Linked DNA regions of Homo sapiens: all the other regions are reported to be linked to region 4. Evidence: microRNA targets listed by miRTarBase, many of them from high-throughput screens and not tested one by one. Region 4 holds a microRNA gene; each other region holds the end of a gene's coding sequence.
What was found. Region 4 holds the annotated microRNA hsa-miR-3665 (AGCAGGUGCGGGGCGGCG, at 3,308-3,325, opposite strand). A microRNA usually pairs through its seed, bases 2 to 8, with sites in the 3' UTR of a target mRNA and lowers its output. Matches are read on the target gene's strand: a 7mer-m8 pairs with bases 2 to 8, a 7mer-A1 pairs with bases 2 to 7 and ends in A, and an 8mer does both.

Region 1 (4,993 bases), not on the chromosome of region 4:
AAATCAAAAGGAGTAGGTGGAGGCTGACTGAGGATTTCTTTATTAGGGAAGGGGCACAGAAAGAGAACTTTGCCATAACAAATGGTGGCAGGATGGTGGAGGAGGGGGTTGATAATTAGAGAAATGCCAATTTTGTGGCCTCAACCTCCTTTCTCTCCTATCTGTAACCCCACTCCTACTCTTTCCTCTACCATTCTTGGGTGATGATGTATGGAGAGGATGCTAAGATCCCTACTTTGAGAATGCCATCCGTCTGGACACCTTTGGCGGCAACTGTCCACCGCGACACTCACGCTTATTCTCCGGCGGACATATGGTGGCTGGTGTTTCCGCAGTTGGGGAATAATGGAAGCAACCAAGCGGGAGAAGCCTGAGGAACAAAAGAATCTTTTAAACTTTAGTGAAAGGGCCGGGGTTGGGGATGTGGGGGGACACTCGACTTACTGTGAGGACCTGAGCCCAATTTCGGGGTGACTGTCTAAGGCCATGTCCCCCCCGAAAGGCCTAGGGCAAGGAGATGCATTCTGAATCTCTTCTCCCTCAATCCCTGGTCGAGGGAGAGGGACTTCCTGTCTGGAGAGTGCGGGTGCAGGGTTTGAAACTAGGAAGGTGGAGTCAACATAATCACTAAAGAAACCGTTCGTGGGGCATGCCACATTGGGAGACAGGATCAAACTGTAGGACAGAAAAAAAAAAAATACGGACAAGGATGCAGAAACCAAGTAGCGATTTGCTATGTAACTGAGCAATTTAATGCCATAGTTAGGGAGCTGCTAGCCAGAATCATTTTGTCTTCAAGGCTCTGCGGAGCTCATCCTCTTTATCCTGTTGTTTAAAATGAGCATTATCCCAAACATATGCAATGCAATCAGTTTGGTCACACTTACAAGAACACGCTTTAATAAGGCAATCAATCACACGCTAACAAGCCAGCAATTGCCGGGGGCCGGTGCACACTCGGGCTGCGGGGTGGCCAGCCTTGCCCAACTGGGCGAATCTGGGCTGGGCGCTGGACCGCGCTCCCAGGCCCTGCCGGCTGGCCGGGATTGAAGAGCCCTGGGAAAGCGTGAGTCGGGAGTGAGGTGTCAGGCTTCACTGGGGGTTACCTCAGAATCTGTGCCCCAGAACAGGGTAAGAGAAGAGGAAGTGGGAGCCCGGAGCTCATAGCTACATCGGCCACTAATAGCTGTGTAGACCTGGAGCCTCCGTTTTCCCTCCTGCAAAATGGAACCGAGATGAGGCAAAGCTAAGTAGAGACACTGAGAGAGTTGAAAAATGAAAACAACATCATGCTAGGCCCTGGTCTAGCCTTCTCATTTTACAGATAAGGAGGCTGTGATTGTGAAGGGGCAGTATCTTCTTCAAGTCAACTCCCACTTCCTCCCTGCCACCACCCAAATGGAACGTGTCATGCCAGATGGGGTAGCCTGATGCAAGTGGGCTAAGAATATTTGGGGGGAGAGGGGGAGTGAGAAGTCGTGCCTAGCGCCAAACCGCAAACCTTGGCAAAAGGGAAATTTCATTATGAAGTAATGAGTAATTCCTCCTGGCAAGATGTATTGTTATATCTTCCACTTCAATTTGGAGGAAGAGAGGCTCAATTACCCAGAAAATACAGTCAATTAAAGGCTGCTGATTGGACACGAAGCTGGATCATCGATCTTGTACTTTCCAATATCTCTGCAGACACCTCATTTTCCCTCCCTATTAACTGAAAATACGCCTGGCATTAAGGCAACATGCAGCCCATTTACCTGTCGCAAGCAATCTCTGCCCAATATGGAGCAACTGCAAAATTTACCAGGATTTGGCACTCAGGAGCTTTTGGCTGCAGGAGAGGGGGTGCTGGAAACCTCAGGGCACAATTTGCTTGGGAGGGCACCTGCTACTGTGTGCAGGAGGATTTGCTGTGGAACCCAAGGAGGGAGGAGGGCATTTGAGGAGTCTCTATGTGCTGGCAAAGACAGTGGCAGAGGACTCCTCGTGTCTATGCAATCCAGAGCCTCCTGGACTCCCAGAAGGCACCCATCTCTCCCCTGCTTAAGTGGAACTCCACAACCAGCCACATTTGGCTCTCCTGTGGGGGATGCAGGTGCGGGCTGGAAGGTAGCTGCTGAGCACTCCTTTCCTCTTGTCCTAACCCCTCAGAATCCCACCCTCAAGATGACTTCCAGTATGAGGACAATTCAGACCAAGATGATCCCAACCAAGGAGCCTTCCTCCCTGCTGTCCTCCACCCTCAAGTGCAGACCCAGTTTGACCAGAAAACTCAGGTCTCTGCAGTACTCAGGCTCTACTGCCACTGCCCCACTCACCTTCCCTTTGGGCTGGGGTGGAGGCAGGTTGCTCAGAGACCACAACCTGGGTCCCCTTTCTGTTGCTCAAAGGATTGGAACAACTGGAGAAGAAACCACAGGGGTGGGCCCCTGGCAGCACTCTGCTGCCACTTTACCAAGGAACTGTTCCCAACATACCCAAAATTAAGGAAACATGCACCCCAGGGCAGCTTGGAGCCTGTCTTCTCCACCTCCATGCAATGGCTGCTTGGAGCCTACCAGTGACAAACAGTGGCTTGGAAGACTCTGTGGGTCCATCTTTTGGTTCCTTCCCTATTCGAACCCATGGTGGCTGAAATAGCAACTTTAAAATTCAGTTAAGAGCTGCCTGCTGCCACAAAAACTAAAATGTAAAGTGAGAATTATGTCCAGCTTTTATTGCAATATGGTTAACGAATCATAACAGCAAGTTCTTTGGGCTTCAAAGGAAAACCCCAAATCAAACCAAATTCATTCCCTACAGGAAGAACCACTCCCTCTCAGTCAGGGTGAAGCTTGCATTGGGGTTACACGTTCTCCTCTTCCTCAAAAACTGGCTGCAAGGATGAGTGTGGGAGTGAGGATTTGGGAGTGGCTCTAAACAAACCCTGGTGGAGGCCACAGACAGGGTCCCCAAAAGGGACAGAAGGCTCCCACTGGTATCTGAAAGTCAAGCTCCAGTGGTAGCTTGGGAAGAAAATGAGAGAAAGTTGTAAAATACCCAATGCAAAGGGTAGGGCCAGAAAGTTCCTGGTGAAGTGAAGGTGAACAAGCAAAGGATGAAAATTGCCTCTAATTTACCGCCAGATACCGAGAGAGGGAGGTGAAGTTCCCACTCCCTAAGCTCTTCCCTGGGCGCCTTGTTAACAGCTCAGCTCTGGGGTCAGTGGCCAGCTCCATGGTGATCATTATTACACATTCAACATTCACAAACCCTCCTCGCACACATCACTTGCTAATCAGGGTGTGTGCTGGGCCCAGGGAAAAAAGGCTTGGCCTCATAGAAGCGGCAAAGGGCTCCTGGGGCATCTGCAGCCTCCCTGGCCAACAAAAAAGTGGGGGCAGGGAGAGATGGAGCCGCAAGTTGAGAAGTGTCACAAAGCTGGGAATGAGGAAAGAGATCAGGTGCTGGCAGACGCCAGACCCAGAAGATGCTGTGTAGTCGAGGCTCCAGGTCCCATGCCAAGGGGCTGGATTCTCCCTGGTAGTAAATCATCTCTCACTCTCTCCTCCAAATGACTGGTATGTTGCCATCCACCAGCCCCTTGTCATGCCTTGGAAAAGCTGGCAAAGATTAATCTCTACCTGCTCTGCATACACAGCATTTTGTTCAGAGAGACAGCAATTTCCCTTTCCAGTGCTTGGGCCTTGGCTGGGGAGAGGGGGCCCGGTGAGAAGGGAGTGTGAGGTGGAGGGTGAGGGGCCGAGGGGCCGAGGGACTGGATATTGGTTGCTGTTGCTGCTAAGTTTTGTTTAGCTTTGGAGCTACAGCCTCGACCCTGGTGGGGGGCGGTGGGTCCGGAGGCTGCCCCGGAGGAAGGTCTCTCAAGCTCTGCTTCCCTATCCCCACTCCTGCTCCCCAAACGCGCCAGCCACCGCCACTTCCTAGGCTTTCCAATTCTTGCGGCCGGATCCCGCTGGTCCTTTTCCGCCCTCTCCTTTCCCCCTTGGCGTCCTAGGGGCGAGGAGCGAGGAGCGAGGAGCGAGGCTGGCTGAGTCCCGGGGCCGGGGGGTGACCCCACGGGCGTCATGGAGCCGGCAGCCAGCCGGCGGCCCCTTATCTAGTGAGGGGCACCTCCTCCCTCTGGTCCAGCGCGACGGAGGAGGCCTTGCTGAGCACCGAGGGCGCGAAGGTGAGGAAGGAGTCCGAGCGGGAGGTGGAGGCACAGGTGAAGTCCGAGGCGGCGGCAGCCCGGGGCGCCAGCCCGTTGGCCGGGCCGCTGTGACAGGCGAGGCAGGAGCAGGGGCCGCCGGCAGAGGCGCCCAGTCCGTGCGCGGGCCCGGGGTAGAGCGGCGGGTGGCGGAAGGCGCACAGCAGTTCGGGCCGCGGGTAGGGCTGCGACAGCACGCGGAACGTGTCGAGCGGGCGCAGCGAGCCGCTGAAGGGCGAGGCGGCGGCGGAGGCGGCGGATGCGGCGCCCAGGCCCACCGGCGAGTAGTAGGGCAGGGGCAGGTGCGATGGGAAGGGGTAGGGCAGGCCGCCCGCGGCCGCCGCATGGCTCATCATGTAAGTGTAGAAGGCGGGGTCCGCCGGGTGCGGCCACGTCATGGCCAGGCGCTGCCGCTTGTCCTTCATGCGCCGGTTCTGGAACCACACCTGGGGAGAGGAGCGGAGCAGGTTCAGTAGCTGGACTTGGCCCGATGCTCAGAGGCCAGTAGTCTGGTCCCGCTCCGGGGACAGTGTTCGCAGGGCAGGAACAGCCAAAGCAGACACCAGCCGGGTAGAGACCGACCCCACCACCACCACCTGGAGCTGGAATCCCTCCGAGAGAGGTTTGGGGAGTGACTCCAGCCCGCTCCCTCCTTCCTTCTGCCCAGGTGGCCAGGCCCCCGGGGTGCCAGAGGCCAGTGTGTGTATGGGAGGAGCAGTGAAAGGACATGGACTCAATTGGTCTGCGGCCGCAGAGAGCGTGTCCCCAGAAACTTCCTTGTCACCCGCACAGGCACTCTATCCCCTT
Region 2 (4,993 bases), not on the chromosome of region 4:
AGTCTGTGGGACTGGCGCTCTTGGGGCCGGGTCTGTGCTCTTCTGGTCCTGCATTCCCCTTTCCCAGGGAACAACGTTGTGGACTCCCCTCCACATGAATCTATCACACAAAGTGCTCACTTGAGAAGACAGAGTGGGGCATTGCAGAAGGCCCCATTACAAGAGGCTCCGTGATTCTCATGTGTTTGTCTGTTTGCTAAGCACATTTTTATACATTTGTCAGATTTTGGTCCAAGATTTGCTTTTATAGTTATATACTCCCCAACGTGAGGTCAGGGACTGGAGCACAGAGTCCCACTTATCTTAGGTAAGAGTTGGTCATGCTGATATTTATATAAGATCCCACATTTGTGGAACAACCAAATTGTTCTCAATAGCAAGGCTGTGCTAAGAGATGGAGGAAAATCAAGTTCTGATGACATTCGTTGAGTCCTTAATTCAATTGTGGTGCCTGGACTTTTCCTATTATGGAGGTAGTACATTGTTTTCTTGATTAGGCCACTTTTCTTGACATCTGTGGAAAAAAGAGACCTAACTGGCCAGGTTTTTCCTTAACACTAGACACTGCAATGCAAGGCATTGTGGGGAAAAAAGTAGCACCTTAACTTGCAGTTACTTGTTATTCCTGCAAAAACAGAACGTAACACACATGTAAACTATTTAATTCACTCCTTTATTCTGGGATGTATATTACAGATAACACAACTCACAAATATACCATCAGACATTGAAAACTAAGGCCATTCTGTGAGTTATTTTTAAAACTTGGTGTTTTGCACATAATGATCTTAAAAAAAAATGAATTACCAAAACCAAGATTCTCTTCTAAAATGAAAATTTAATGCAGGTACAGGATAACTTTAGGGCTATATCTAATCTGAAGCTTATCAGGTAGCAAAACCATTTTCGTTTTCTACAGCATAAATAACAGCTCTAAGGCAACCACTACCTCAGCATGAAGCTCATTTCTCCACGTTAGAGTAGTGTTTACCTGCTACAGTGACCAGTGTTTAGAGACCATTTCCCTTTCAGTAGCAAAAAGAGACTTTACCTAAGAAACACACTACATACTACAGAATCCTTGGAACAAGAAACAGAAAGGGAGCTGTAACTAAGGCACTGAAAGCACATTATTTGTATAAAGAAATGTAAACAATTTAACACCAACAGGCTCCCTCCGTTGGAGTCTTTATTGTAAATGCACACAGGGGCATCATAGTCAGGGCTAGAGTTTGAAGTCTGGGTGAAACAAATGTTTCTGCAGAGTTCAGAGTCTTGGCTGCCAATATATTTCTAACATGGTGCTGTTGAATTAACTATTTCAAAGTGACTCAAGTGGAAGCTGGTATTTCCCTTGAATCTGAGTTTTAATAGCATTAACAAACAAGGAAGAATTTTATAGGAGTCCTAAAATTACGGGCTCTTTCTAACATTTATTTGAGTCTTTTATCAAGTTCTTCTAATGAATTTTAGGATTATTTTGGCTTATTTCATCAAGGAAGTTTGGTGTAAGAACTTGTTACCTAATGAGTGCCCCTCCTTGTAAGTTCATATTTCAAGTTACATGGTTCATGCCATAAATAAACCACACTTGCTTTAACATCGTTCAGAATGGTACATTTAACAATTGGACATACAGCACTGTAAACAATTCAAAGTCCATTGAGCTTACCATGAAAGAACTGAAACGTATGTAGGAACTGTGTCCTGCTGCAGACAAGCAGCTGCTCTGGCTCTGGTGCGGTGCGGTGCAGTGAGGTGAGGTGGGCAGGTGTGGAAGGGAGAATTCCTGAGGCCAGTCACAATTATTGAAGCTAAATTAATTTCTTCCTGACACTTTAGCATTAATTCTAAGTAGTTCTAAGTTCTAAACCATTAACTGTATAGTTAATTTTTTTAAATCAAAGAAGAAAAAGGCTTTCACACAGATGAATGTATAGGAAAACACAAGTAATGACAATTTTCAAGAGCCTTATTGTAAAAAAAGAAAGAAAGAAAAAAGGACAATTATTTTTGGAGTTACTGTCTCTAATTCTTAAAAAGTAAGTACAGTGTCTGTATCTCTAAGTTTTAGTGCTATACAGCACTAAATGTACTTTATGAATTTGGGGTAGGTAAAGTTTGTATTTTATCTTAAACATGTTTTCTATGATGAAAAGGAACAAAATTGTAAAAAATGAGGATCTTCCCTCTAAAGGTTTCAAAGCGTTAGAGGACATGCAATTAAATGTTGTTACACCTTGAACAATGAGCCTCTTGAGTTTGTAGGAAGGGCAGACCGGCTCCATTACCAACAACTTTGGGGTAGAAAGCACAGCTCTCCTCTTTTACCCAGCACAAATGCAATCCTGATTATAAAACTATTTGTGTTTCTAAATACAACCAAAGGAAATCTTAGAGAAACATAAATTAGAAACCTCTTTTATTAAGGGGAAACAACAAAAAAAGGTGCTTTTTTAAAAAAAAAAAAAAAAAAAGAAAAGAAAAAGAAAAAACAAGCTGTAAAACCATGAAGTTAAAGAGCTGGGTCTGGAGCAGATGTGCATAATAACTAGTTAGTTGCTCCCAGCAGGATCAGAAACAGCTTTGGGGGAGCAGAGGAATATGGGTTGGTGTGTTTCAGAAGAGGCACCAGTTAATACTCTTCCAATAAAAATGATGTGTCAACAGTGTTCAGCCTCAACCAGTGCTTTCTCACAGAATCTGCTTGGTAAGTTCAGTTCACAATGTGTTTACCTTTCATGGCAATGCACGATGCAATTATTGGGTAGGTCACTGTCAAGCAAAAACGAGATATAATTACAGAGAAGGCATTAATGCCCAAAGAGTACATAAAGCAGTAAGTAGCTTCTGAGGCTGGTTCAATGCAGAAGTAAAACTAACAGGTTTGCTAACAGCTAAAGACTTTTAATTGCCTCATATTTTCTGCAGCTCTGACCAGCATCCTTCTTACACGACAAAAAAAAAAAGAAAAAAAAAAAGAAAAAAAAGTGTGCAGCTCCAACAGAGTGAAAATGACAACACTTTTCTTTTGCCTCAGAAGAAGACTGGTGCTTGGTGTGCTGGATTTTCCACTGACTCCAAATGACAAGAATATTTGGGCAAACAATTGGTCAAAAGTGGGTTTAAATATTACTATTGAAAAAGGAAGGCTAAAACTAAAAAGAAAGATCACTTGCTATCATTATTAAGGATTAATTTTTGTGTTTCATTTTGGTTTTAAGGTAAAATTTGTCAAGGCTACAAGGGGTTGAGTAATTTAGGATAAACCATTACTGCCCTGTCTGCAAGCCATTTGTTGTTTTAATGGTAGATGTTAGATACCCAAGCACATGTAGAAAAAACAACCTTCCTTTTTTGGTAGGTTGTAAAGAAATATTTCAAAAGACAGTTTCTGACTGGAATGACAGAATGTTCTGAGTGTTCCTTTAAAAAAGTATGTGACTTCATGTATACCATTTTTAACAGAAAAAGCTACACCTGCCAAAATGTTGTAAGAAAACCAGCACTAAGCATGCAATACTGAGTGTGAGAAAGGAACTTAAACTGTATTACTTCCTATCTTTTAAAATTCAAACTAAAGTTTCAAAGTGGAGAGCCTGTGGTTGCTCCCTGAGTCCAGGTTTTATCTTCCACGAGAGAAAAGGGCACAGGTGGTCTTCTGACGTCTTGGTCAGCATACAATGTTATGAATAATGAAGGGCTTCCTGTCAAAATGCTTGATCGGTTTCACGACAAAGGGGGTTCCATTTTCTGATCTTAAGGATGAGATGGGTTTGGCGCAGGAAGAAGGACGCCAAGGGAGGGAGCCTGGGCACCACCTGCCTGAGTACCTGGAGGGACAGCGCTCACCTCAATGAGGTGACCTGGGCAGTCCAGTAACAGCATGTGATCCGGGCTGTTGTTGACGAGTTCCAGATCTGCCTCTGGTACGGGGAGTCTGTTAGGATTGGGCCTTTAAGAAAAATGTGTGTGTTCCTTGTCGCTAAAAGCCTGATGATTGTTTAATAATATTCTGGCCCAAGTTATTTCACCCCGATCACTCCCTGCTATGTACACAGTATCGAAATTACATTCAGAGATTAAAAAAAATTGTAGCAATATTTTTCCCACAAAATTAAGTGCAAAATATCTTTAACAAATAATGATGGCAGTAAGAAATATTCGACATAGTCATGCAAAAATGCATCTGAGCTTAGAAAGGTTTAGAACATTTCCAAAATATGCTCTAGGTTTTCACATGGCAAACCTTATAATCTTACTCATTTTTCTTTGAATTTAAATGTGGCTGTTTGTGTAAAAGTCGGTAACATGCAAGTTCTATGATCTCCAGTCCACCAAATATTCTCTCTTGCAGCACAAAGATTACAATGGTGATTATAAAATACCACTTAACAAGACTGTACAAATATATGAGTAGGCACATTGCAGGGCTGAACAGGGTCCAATACAGTATAGAGAGCAATTTGACCACAAGGACCCTGAGTTCAGACTTGCAAGGTGGAATGACACTCTGTCCGGTAAAATAAAAATTCTTCTCCCCTTGATAGAAGGAACGCAGCCTCTCTTCTTTCTCTTCCCACCGTTTGTGGCACCAGAGTTGAAGGTCCTCCTTGGATGTGGGGAGGGTGTCTATTGGATACCGGTGGACGTGAAAGTGGATTTCCCTGGGAAAGTCTCCTTGGAGGAGGTGCTTCTCTGATTGAGGAATGTTGTGAGGATACGCCACAGTGATATCATGGACAGCATCAAGGTTCTTACCTGGGTTTCGAAAAGATGAAAACATAGATTAAGCAGTGCTCAATTTGGGTGATAATGCTGATTCACACTGCAGGGCAGCACCAGAAACCGAAAAATCAGGACAGTGTGAACCACAATGAACAAACAAGGGTTAGAGATACTGGTGTTCCTGGACACCTGGGTCAATATTTACCAGTCATCTTTAGTTTTATTTCCTGCTTGCTAATTACCACAAAATATTTAGAAAGAAAAT
Region 3 (4,993 bases), not on the chromosome of region 4:
TCGGTGCCTTCCCCCATTGAGTCCTTGAAGTCCCCTCCAGGTCTCACCTCCTCCTAAAGCTGGCACCACCAGTTTTCCTCAGAGACAAGGCTAAAGAAACACTGAGTGCAGGGCCCCGGGGGGGAGGCACCCTATACCCTATCAGTCCCAACCCCAGGCAAGCCGAACCAGGATCAGGAGACCAGAGGGAGGCAGAGGGGCAGCTCCACACCAGCTGTGGCTCAGGCAGTGTTCCTTGGTAGGCACAGAGGTCAGAGAACAGGAAGTGGGGTGAATGGGAGACAGAGACAAAGTAAGAAGAACAGAGACAGGGGGAGAGACCTTCTGAGACACAGAGGACAGATGGAGAAAGAGAGAGACACCAAGGCTGTCAGAGTCATTGAGCAGCAGATGGAGAGCTATACTGGGGCAGAGAAGTACAGAGGGAGATGGGGGAGAAAGACTTAGCCCAAGGAGAGGCCGGGAGACAAACACAGCATGTGAAAGATGGGGGCCCAGAGGAAGGGAGGGCCAGAGACACGAAAGGCAGAGAGGGACAAAGACCATCAGAGAAAGATGAACACAATGGGACACACAGAGACAGACCCACGCACAGAGACCATAAGAGAGAAAGAGATGAACCTGGAGAGTGAGAGACTCAGAGAGAGTGACAGAGACCACTAGAAAGCAGTGAGCAGAGCGATGAGGGGAGGTTGGGGAGCTGGAAAGACAGGTTCAGTGAGGGAGGAAGACAGGGACGCCAAGGGCTCAGGGAGAAGGCCGGGAGGAGCAAGGGGGCTCGAGGAGTGGCCAGAGCCCCTTGCTGCCCTCTAGAGGCCCCGGCTGAGCAGAGGGTCTGTTGTCCACCCCACCCCCACTCCCACCCAGCCCCATCCCCAGCCAGCTGGCTTCCCAGAGGAGGCAACAGCCCCGATTAGTCTTTGTTCTCTTTGGGACACAGGGGCTGCCCTCTTGCCACTGGCTGGGCTCCCACCTCCACCAAGCGCCTGTCCTCCCTCTTCCACCAGGGTGGTGGTTTGACGCCTGTGGCCTGTCAAACCTCAACGGCGTCTACTACCACGCTCCCGACAACAAGTACAAGATGGACGGCATCCGCTGGCACTACTTCAAGGGCCCCAGCTACTCACTGCGTGCCTCTCGCATGATGATACGGCCTTTGGACATCTAACGAGCAGCTGTGCCAGAGGCTGGACCACACAGGAGAAGCTCGGACTTGGCACTCCTGGACAACCTGGACCCAGATGCAAGACACTGTGCCACCGCCTTCCCTGACACCCTGGGCTTCCTGAGCCAGCCCTCCTTGACCCAGAAGTCCAGAAGGGTCATCTGCCCCCCAACTCCCCTCCGTCTGTGACATGGAGGGTGTTCGGGGCCCATCCCTCTGATGTAGTCCTCGCCCCTCTTCTCTCCCTCCCCCTTCAGGGGCTCCCTGCCTGAGGGTCACAGTACCTTGAATGGGCTGAGAACAGACCAAACTTGATTCCCATGACCAATGGTGGGGTTGCAGGCAGGTGGGAATGTATTTGCACATCGGAAGCTGCCCAGATGGCCCAGGTTCTCTCCCTTGGATTGGCAAGAAGGCCATCTCCCATTCTAAGCTCCTGTTCCAAGATTTTCTAGTCTTGAGATGTCCTTGAACTTTCTTTTCAAGTCTGAAGGGGCTGCATCCACCCCTTAGTGGGTGGGTTAATCATTATTTCCCCTTCACACTTCACCACTTCTAGGTTCTAATGACCCTAGATCTCAGGGTCTTTAGACTTCACCACTTCTAGGCTTTACCACTTCACCACTTCTAGGCTCCAATGTTTGGAGCTCAGGGTCTTTAGGAGACCCAAAAGGACATGCTCCTTCACCTCCAGCATGTCCTAGAGGATGTGTCACAGGGAATAACTATGGCTTGTCTCTAAAAGTACCTATGAGCAATGAGAAAAGGAAACAGCAGGTTAAGTCAAAGTGAACAGGCACTCTTCACTGCAGGACTGATCAGAGCCTTTAATATGGCCAAGTGCCTTGTGACTACCCATGAAGGGGCTAGAGTGGGCAGCTTTCTCCAAATTTACTTATTTGAAAATGGGCTCGGTTTGTCCCAGAGCATCTCACAGGACTGTAGATGCTCTTGGACAAAGCTAGTGCTCCCCTGGCATAAGGAGGAGCCCTACGACCCCATCCCCACCCCAGCTATACTCACCCTTTTTGGCTACAAGGGCCACAGTGACAGCCTCAAACAACCTCTAAAAACAACTGGAAATAACCTTTCAGTTAAAACAGATACCATCCCTGAAGAAGGGTCTAGAACTAGGTCCCTGTCTGTGTTATAGGCTCATGTCCTCCAAGGCTCCTTCAAGTCCCAGGAAGCTGATCTCTACCTGGGTGGCTTCCCTTAGGACTCCCTGTAACCTCAACTCCCCCAGGCTCAATTACAGGGACTGTTAGGCAGGACATCTGTCTCCAAGTCCAGATCCTCTCTGCCTCCAAGCCCTAACCCCTAGCCTCCCTCCCTTCCCCATCCAGCAGTGATGCTGCCTCTGTGGTGGTAGGTGGGGAGCTGCAGGGGAGGAGATAAGGCCTCTGCCTGAGTTTGGGAGACCAGGGCCCTCATAGCTTCTTTCAGAGGATGGAGTCAGAAAGGATCCACAGCTACTCTGTCACCTGCCCCCATCACTGTGTCATGCTGTCTGCCCTGTTGTCATCAGCCAACACCCAGGCATAGCCAGGAGCCCACCTGCCCTACCGCCAGGATACACCTCTGTCCTCAGAAGGTTTTCTCCTGGATGAGACTGAGCCAATGGGAATGGGACCCCTTCATCCCCCTGGCTCGCCCCAGCCCTGAGTCCCACTCTCAGCCGATCCCTGAGTAAACCCAGCACAGACTGACTTTGATCTCATTCCTGGGAATTAGCACTCTTCCCCTTCAAGACTCAAAGGACATGGTTGCTAATGGTGGCATTTCAGGCATGATGGGAAATCTTTAGGGGCAGATTGCTGCCCAGAGAGCTCAAATCGCCTTAAGCAGCATTTGCCCAGCAGACCTTTATTTAGCCTCTACTGTGTGCAGTGTGGTGTGGTGGGCAGGGCTTTGGAGTCGGACAAACCTGCTCCAGCTCTGACACTTTGGTCCAGTGGCTCAGCCTCTCAAGGCACCAGTTATCTTCACATCATCAAAGCCTCAGTTTTCCCATCTGTAAAATGGAGATGATAATATTCCTTCCTGGCTGGGCTATGGCAAGGAGGAAATGAGACCATGTATGTCATCTTCTTAATAGAGCCTGGCATGAAGCAGGTGCCTAATAAATGTTTGTCCTCAAAGAGGAGAATGGGGTGAGGAAGGCATTCCCCAGCACATGCCGCCCCTTCTCCTGCACTCAGGTGAGGAAAAGGCATTTTATTTTTGTATCCACATCATTTATTTTTCTATTGTAGTTTCTAGGCTGACTGCAAGCTAGAGAGGAGACAGGGCAAAGCTGTGAGGCCCAGGGACAGAACTCCTCTGGGTGGGTTGAAGGCCCAAGTCCCTCTCTACTCCCATTTTATAAGGGGGCAGGAAGCTGATTTGAGTTATCCTCAGACACCTGTTCTTTATGTAATTTTATTTTATTTTTTTGAGACAGAGTCTCACTCTGTCACCCAGGCTGGAGTGCAGTGGCATGATCTCAGATCACTGCAATCTCTGCCTCCTGGTTCAAGTGATTCTCCTACCTCAGCCTCCTGAGTAATGGGATTACAGACGCCTACCACCACGCCCGGAAAACTTTTGTATTTTTAGTAGAAACGGGTTTTCACCATGTTGGCCAGGCTGGTCTCAAACTCCTGGCCTCATGTGATCCACCTGCCTCAGCCTCCCAAAGTGCTGGGATTACAGGCATGAGCCACCATACCCAGCCTCAGACACCTGTTCTTAAATATTCATCCTTCTTTCTTACCTTCCTTCCTCTTCCATGCCAGGACTCAGGTATAAGGGATAGAAATTCTAGCCCTAAGGAATAAATTGACTCACATAACTGGAAAGTCTAAGGGTAAAGGCAAGTGAGGTTAGATCCAGAGGCTCAAATGATGTCAGCTCCACCTCTCAGCCCCTCCATCTGCCCCGTTGACTTCATTCTCAGCCAGGATCTTTCCTCACAAGAAGGCTCTGGCAGCCCCAGGCTCATGTCCTCCCAGCTCAGCATCCCTGACCCGGGGAGCTCCCTCGTCTCCATGATTCCAGTAAAGGAATGATTTTCTGCAGCCAGGATTGGTCTTGTGTCCATCCCTATGCTTATCACTCTTACTCTGCTTGACCAGACCTCGGTCTCATGATCATGCCTGGCACCAGCAGTGGGGTCAGTGACACCCAAGTCATGACTTCAGGAAACAGGGATGCTAGGCAGCCTTCCCTCGTTCCCTGTCCCTGGCTCTCATCTCTCTTCTCTCCACCTCTGTGCCCTCTCTCGGCCTCCCTGTCCCCAGGTCCTGACCCCAGGATCCAGTTCATCCCAGATTGCCTCTGACTATCAAGGGCACAGCTGTGTCCTGCCCAGGAATATTAGACCCTGTTATCAGTCTGGCTCTGCCATTGGATCAGAGCCCCTGGCCCTCTCTGAACCTCAGTTTCCCATGGACAGAGCACCTAGCAACCTCTGAAAGCCCTTCTGACAGTGAGGCTGACTCACAATGGCTGCAGACAAGACCAACCTGAGGATCCTGGGCAGCACAAGGCACTGTAGAGGGCACGGCTGGTGTGGTCTCGAGCCTAGACTGGGTCTCCTGGGGGCCACAGCTCATAGGTGCCAGCCTCTAGGATACCTGCATCTGCGGGTTCCTATGGAAAACACTTGTCACCTCTCCCTGCACCAGGTTAGTTTTCTTCCCATTTCAGTGATGAAGAAATTAGGCACCGGGCACAGTGGCTCCTAGTCTGTAATCCTAGCACTTTGGGAGGCCAAGGCTGGTGGGTTGCCTGAGCTCAGAAGTTCAAGACCACCCTGGGCAACATGGTGAAACCCCATCTCTACTA
Region 4 (4,993 bases):
TTTTCTTGCAGTAATTGGATCTATAAACTTGAATTAATGTAGTGCTCATATTAGGGTATGTCAGCTGCACTGATCGCAAAATTTAAACGTATGAATCTTACTCTAGGAGAAATTTTACTCTGGCCCACTAGCAACTGCTAAGAACCATCATTTTCATGAGTGAACTTGGGCAAGTAACATAACCTTGTAAGCTCATCTGTAAAACTGGGATAATAACAGGCTGTTTCTAGATTTCCTTTGAGAATTATTTTTATATACTCAAGAACCTATGGGTGCTTTTGCGATTCTGTTGCTGGATCTATTTAATGTTCATACACAGTATTAGAAATATATGTGAAAAATACAAATTAAAATAAGTTCATGTGCTTTCTTAAAATTCACTAGAGTGATGATAGTTCTGAAGTGTAATGAATAGAGAGAAACATGCATTTCTTTATCCAGTTTTGAATGTGTGATATGTGGATGTTTCACATTACCTTATGGTGTATCAAATGTATGCTTAAAGCATAAACTTTTAAATGAGACATGCACTTTCATTTTTCATATCCTCTTTGTAAACCTCTGAAATCACCTACATATTTTATTTAAAATCAAAACATTACAATTGAGCAACTACAGCATGCAATTTCTTTCAAAACACAAAGCTTACTAATTTGCATCAAAATAAAAAAATCAAGACTGCTTAATTAAAACCTTGACACCATCAACCTCTTTAATTATACGTTAAAGAGACTGGCATCCTGGGGACACCAACTTGAAATCAGTGTGCATTTTGAGTGTCTCTGGTGTGTGTACATGTGCAATTCACAGAAGGGAAAAAAAGAGGGGCATTAAGAGAAAGCAAAAACATGATTTAAATTTTCTTTAGACATTAATAATTTCACACTTTTAAAATAGGTAGGAAAAGGGCAAATTTGTCTTTTCAGAAGAATAATGCAGACTAGAATTGTAAAACAATGTTTCATCTCTTTTCTATGTCTAAATTTCAATGCATGCTTTCTTTTTAAAGAACAAAGATTTTTATGATAATTATTACTTAGAAAACAGGGTTCAAAAGCTTGGCTACTGCTTGTTGGATGTATATAGACCATATTGGGTAAATGAAGGAGGAAAGGGCTGTCTGTTTCTCTCCTTCTTTAGAGTGTATATAAATTGTGCAGTAAAATGACGGCTTTTCTTTACATCTTAATTCTTGTTGTCTTCACTATTATGTGCCTATTCCCAATTTCTTTCTCTAGTCTGGGACCCAGCAGCTCTTTGTTCTCATTGTGTCTGTCGTCTCCCTTTCTTTGTGTTGCAGGGAGATACTGCTACCCGCATCTGCCACTGAGCATGCGGGAAAAATCCTTCAATAGATTCTTTACTTAGGACTTTCAGTAGTATTACTCCATTTCTCCAGGTTTTGGTAATAACCAAAAAAAATCCTAAAGATATACCGAAACTTGGAAAGGTGATGGGTGATACAGGTGGTTAGGTGGTGGGCTAGCAAGCTGGGACACAGGGAAGGTTAAGGGAGTCATCACACGCATTTAGCTAATTTATGGAAGCGCTCACCAAGCATGTTAAATGCAGAACATCCACCCTGCACACAGAAGCTAGAGATGTAGATTAACAACTGAGAAGATACAAGTGTTTCTGAGCAGGAAGACACAAAACCATATCTGAAACCAATAGATACGATGTGTTAGCAGCTCCAGAGAAATGAGGTACATTGTCACAAAGATTGGTATGTAAAGTCCCTAGCAAGGACTTTCACTAGATAGTATATCATCTGAGGATGAGAACCAGTGGTGTAGATTTTTCTCATAATATAATCTCAGGTTTTCCTCTGATTGTGTTAAACACTCAAAATGCTAAGTCAGTCAGTATTCATTGAACACAACTCGATTAAATTCTTCTGCTTAAAAGCCTCTTTTAAAAAAAGCAGATTTGCTCGTTTTCCAAGTGGTAAGAAATAGCAGGTTTGCAGGTGAGATTAAAGTGTATTGGGTAGAATTCTGAGGTTTTCTGTTTTCTGCTTTCCCACCAGCAAGTCTGACTTTAATAACTTACACATTATTTAATAGAAGGAGCACTAAACAATTTTACTCATATTTCTCCCCATAACCATTTTTGCCTATTGTACTCATTGCCCGCATCACGAGCTCTTAGAATGGTTCCTGGCACAGAGTAGGTGCTCAAAGATCTTTTGTTTGGGGAATGCATGAATATACATAGTATGAAAAAAAAAGCAGTTCTTCTTTTATTGTGACAAACAATGATGGTAACAGTTCAAATTTGACTATTTTAGAATAAATAAGTAAACACTTGTCTCCTTAGCAGCTGGCCACTCTACCTCTTAGAGAGAGGGCTTTCTTCTCTTTCTTCTCGGTCTCCTGTCTCCCACCATTTTGCTTCTCTATTACCAATGAGAACATGAGTGGCATGGTCCCAAAGCCTTTCTGTTCCCCCTATCTCCACTTTTCGGTTTTTAGAATAACGATCCCCAGCCTTTAAGTTTTCTATAGGATTCGTTAGCCAGTGGCTATTAAGTGCTGTCACGGAGCCTAACAGAGAGCTGGGAAGGGAGCAAACCAGCGGGCCGGTGGTGCACTACTCGAGGGCCAGCACCTGCAGCTGCTTCTTTGGGAACCCCCTGGTCCCCGCAACCGCCTCAGAGACCCGCGCAGTTCACTGTCCCACCAAGCGGCAGGAGGAGGTGCTTGTGGCGGGAAAGTTCAGGCCAGGTCCAATCAGGCCCCTGGGATTAGGTAGCGAGGGTGGGTGCGGCTCCCCGGCCCCAACCCGGGCTGCCGGCCCCGCCCCCTGGGTGGGCTTCCCCACGGTTCTCCGCCCCCCCCCCCCCACCCGCCCCCTCGGCGCTCTTGCCCCGCCCCGCTCCGGGGCCGCGGCTAAAACCCGGAGCCGCCGCGACGCCCAGGGGACTGGAGGGACGCACTGAGCATGTGCAGATCAGCTCGGTGGTGGCTGCCGCGGCCGGAGGCGAGGGCCCGGTGCTGATGCGAACCGCCGGCTCGGCCTCAGCCCGCGCGTGGTCGGCCCCCCAGGCCGGGGCGACAGGGAAGGAGCCGTAGCCTCCCCGTGGCCCGAGGAGCCGGCGCGGCGGCGCGCACTCCCCGGCGGCCGCGGCGCCCTCGGGGCCCACGATGATGGCGGAGCAGGTGAAATGCGCCTCGGCAGGGGTCAGCTCTGGAGCGGGCTCCGGGCCGGTGGTGAACGCGGAGCTGGAGGTGAAGAAGCTGCAGGAGCTGGTGCGCAAGCTGGAGAAGCAGAACGAGCAGCTGCGGAGTCGAGCGGCCAGCGCGGCCGCCGCCCCGCACCTGCTGCTGCTGCCGCCGCCGCCGCCCGCCGCGCCGCCCCCCGCTGGCCTGCAGCCTTTGGGTCCTCGGAGCCCCCCGGCCGCCACGGCCACCGCCGCGGCCTCAGGGGGCCTGGGGCTCGGGCTGGCGCTGGGCGCGGGGGGCGGTGGCGGCAGCGGTAGTGGCAGCGGCGGTGGCTCCAGCCCCGCGTTCCCGGGCACCTTCTGCCTGCCTAGCCCCGCGCCCTCCCTGCTTTGCAGCCTGGCGCAGCCACCCGAGGCGCCCTTCGTCTACTTCAAGCCGGCAGCAGGCTTCTTCGGCGCGGGCGGTGGCGGGCCGGAGCCGGGGGGCGCGGGGACGCCGCCAGGGGCAGCTGCAGCGCCGCCCTCGCCGCCCCCCACGCTGCTGGACGAGGTGGAATTGCTGGATCTGGAGAGCGTAGCCGCCTGGCGGGACGAGGACGACTACACCTGGTACTGCCTGGCTCCGCTCCTTCCCCGAGACCCTGGCCTCGGGGGCTTCGGGCACCGGGGAGCGGGGGCGGGGGGCGGACGGGGGTCCCCTCGCGGCAGCCGGGGTGACTCCCCGCGGCTCCCGGAGGGGCCGACCCAGCAGGTGTTGAGCCAGGCGGTGACACTTCCCACGATGAGGCTTCTCATGAAGGCAGAAACCTGTTTTCTAATCGCTCCGACTGCGGATGAACCGGCCCCCCCTTCCCCCCATCTGCCATGGGTTCTGCTATTTGCTGATTGTTGGGTCCCAAGCTCCTCGTTAGCATTAAGTGCAAAATCCATGTCATCTTGTCTTTTTGCTCAGTGCTGCTCTTTTCCCCAGTGTTTTCGGAGGGATGACGGGGGATGGTAGGGGTTGGCCTCTGTCTGCGACTGTTACTGTTCTTTCGTTTTAAACGAACGCTGGACAGGATTTGCGTGCTCTTCCTCCTCGGGTGGCATCGGAAGCCGCGCAGTGATGGATCTCTCTTTATAGAGAGGTTCGTTCTTGCTGTTTGAATTTTGCAGTCGTGTGCCCTTTTGCGTTGCATTTTCATTGAAATCTTATTTTCAGAGACTGACTTGCTTTTTAAAATGGGGTGACCTCACTGGCTTTCCCATAAATAGTGCCAATAAAGAGGACTTTTCTTGGAGTGGAATGAACAGGTGGGAGGGACTTTTTTATTTATTTATTTATTTTTTTACCTAGGAACCAACGAACTGTCTTTAATTTTTTAAATTAAACTGTAGAAGAAAAGTGAGATTAGAGAAGCCTTATTTTCTTATTTCTTGGAAACTTTTTAGCTTGGTTATCAGAAAACTTGAGGCTGACAGCATTTATTCAGTTGACATCTGGTTAGCACTGTCTACTTTCCATGAATGAGTAACTTTAGGGGGAGGCTTGCTGTAGTCCTTCTTTACTTTAGGTCCTTTTTATGTAGGACCCTTTCTGTTTTTCCAAGCTGTGTTTTCATTACTTTCTTTGTGTCTCTGTTGCATGATTGCATGGAAGGGATTGGGAAATGGAGATCCTTACTGGTTTCCTATTGGGAACTGCAGTGTTCCTTTTCCCTTACACTCTGTCATGTGAGAGCTCTAACTGTAAAGTACATTAGTTAATTGGTTTCATTCAAGAATCAAAATATATGGAGTTACAGTAAGCCTTTCAGAGGTGTATTCATCATCCACCTTAATACTTTTTGG

Region 1: miRTarBase lists EVX1 as a target of hsa-miR-3665. The part of its 3' UTR that is shown has no 7-base or 8-base seed match.
Region 2: the mRNA of LCLAT1 is a reported target of hsa-miR-3665. Seed matches in the 3' UTR shown: 7mer-m8 at 1,768-1,774 and 7mer-A1 at 843-849.
Region 3: the mRNA of ANGPT4 is a reported target of hsa-miR-3665. Seed matches in the 3' UTR shown: 7mer-m8 at 2,647-2,653, 7mer-m8 at 2,720-2,726 and 7mer-m8 at 3,824-3,830.

Annotation. Positions count from the first base shown.
Region 1 is chr7:27,245,525-27,250,517 of GRCh38, reverse strand. It overlaps EVX1 (even-skipped homeobox 1), which reads right to left. Exons shown (of 3, transcript NM_001989.5): 3 at 2,688-4,632. The coding sequence ends at 4,093. EVX1-AS (EVX1 antisense RNA) reads left to right here and starts at 3,289. Exons shown (of 4, transcript NR_120507.1): 1 at 3,289-3,557. RefSeq lists enhancers at 646-1,869, 4,081-4,690, 4,691-4,993.
Region 2 is chr2:30,639,885-30,644,877 of GRCh38, reverse strand. It overlaps LCLAT1 (lysocardiolipin acyltransferase 1), which reads right to left. Exons shown (of 6, transcript NM_001002257.3): 6 at 653-4,761. The coding sequence ends at 4,259. Among named protein-coding and RNA genes, the nearest start is that of CAPN13, 170 kb to the left of the region's middle.
Region 3 is chr20:869,135-874,127 of GRCh38, reverse strand. It overlaps ANGPT4 (angiopoietin 4), which reads left to right. Exons shown (of 9, transcript NM_015985.4): 9 at 1,008-4,228. The coding sequence ends at 1,168. It overlaps LOC124904854 (a long non-coding RNA gene), which reads right to left and starts at 3,176. Exons shown (of 3, transcript XR_007067485.1): 1 at 3,093-3,176; 2 at 1-1,231. RefSeq lists enhancers at 608-1,108, 1,109-1,609.
Region 4 is chr13:77,694,768-77,699,760 of GRCh38, forward strand. MIR3665 (microRNA 3665) reads right to left here and starts at 3,349; the gene lies at 3,245-3,349. SLAIN1 (SLAIN motif family member 1) reads left to right here and starts at 2,920. Exons shown (of 7, transcript NM_001242868.2): 1 at 2,920-3,772. The coding sequence starts at 3,147. RefSeq lists silencers at 2,678-3,237, 3,438-3,677, 3,838-3,987.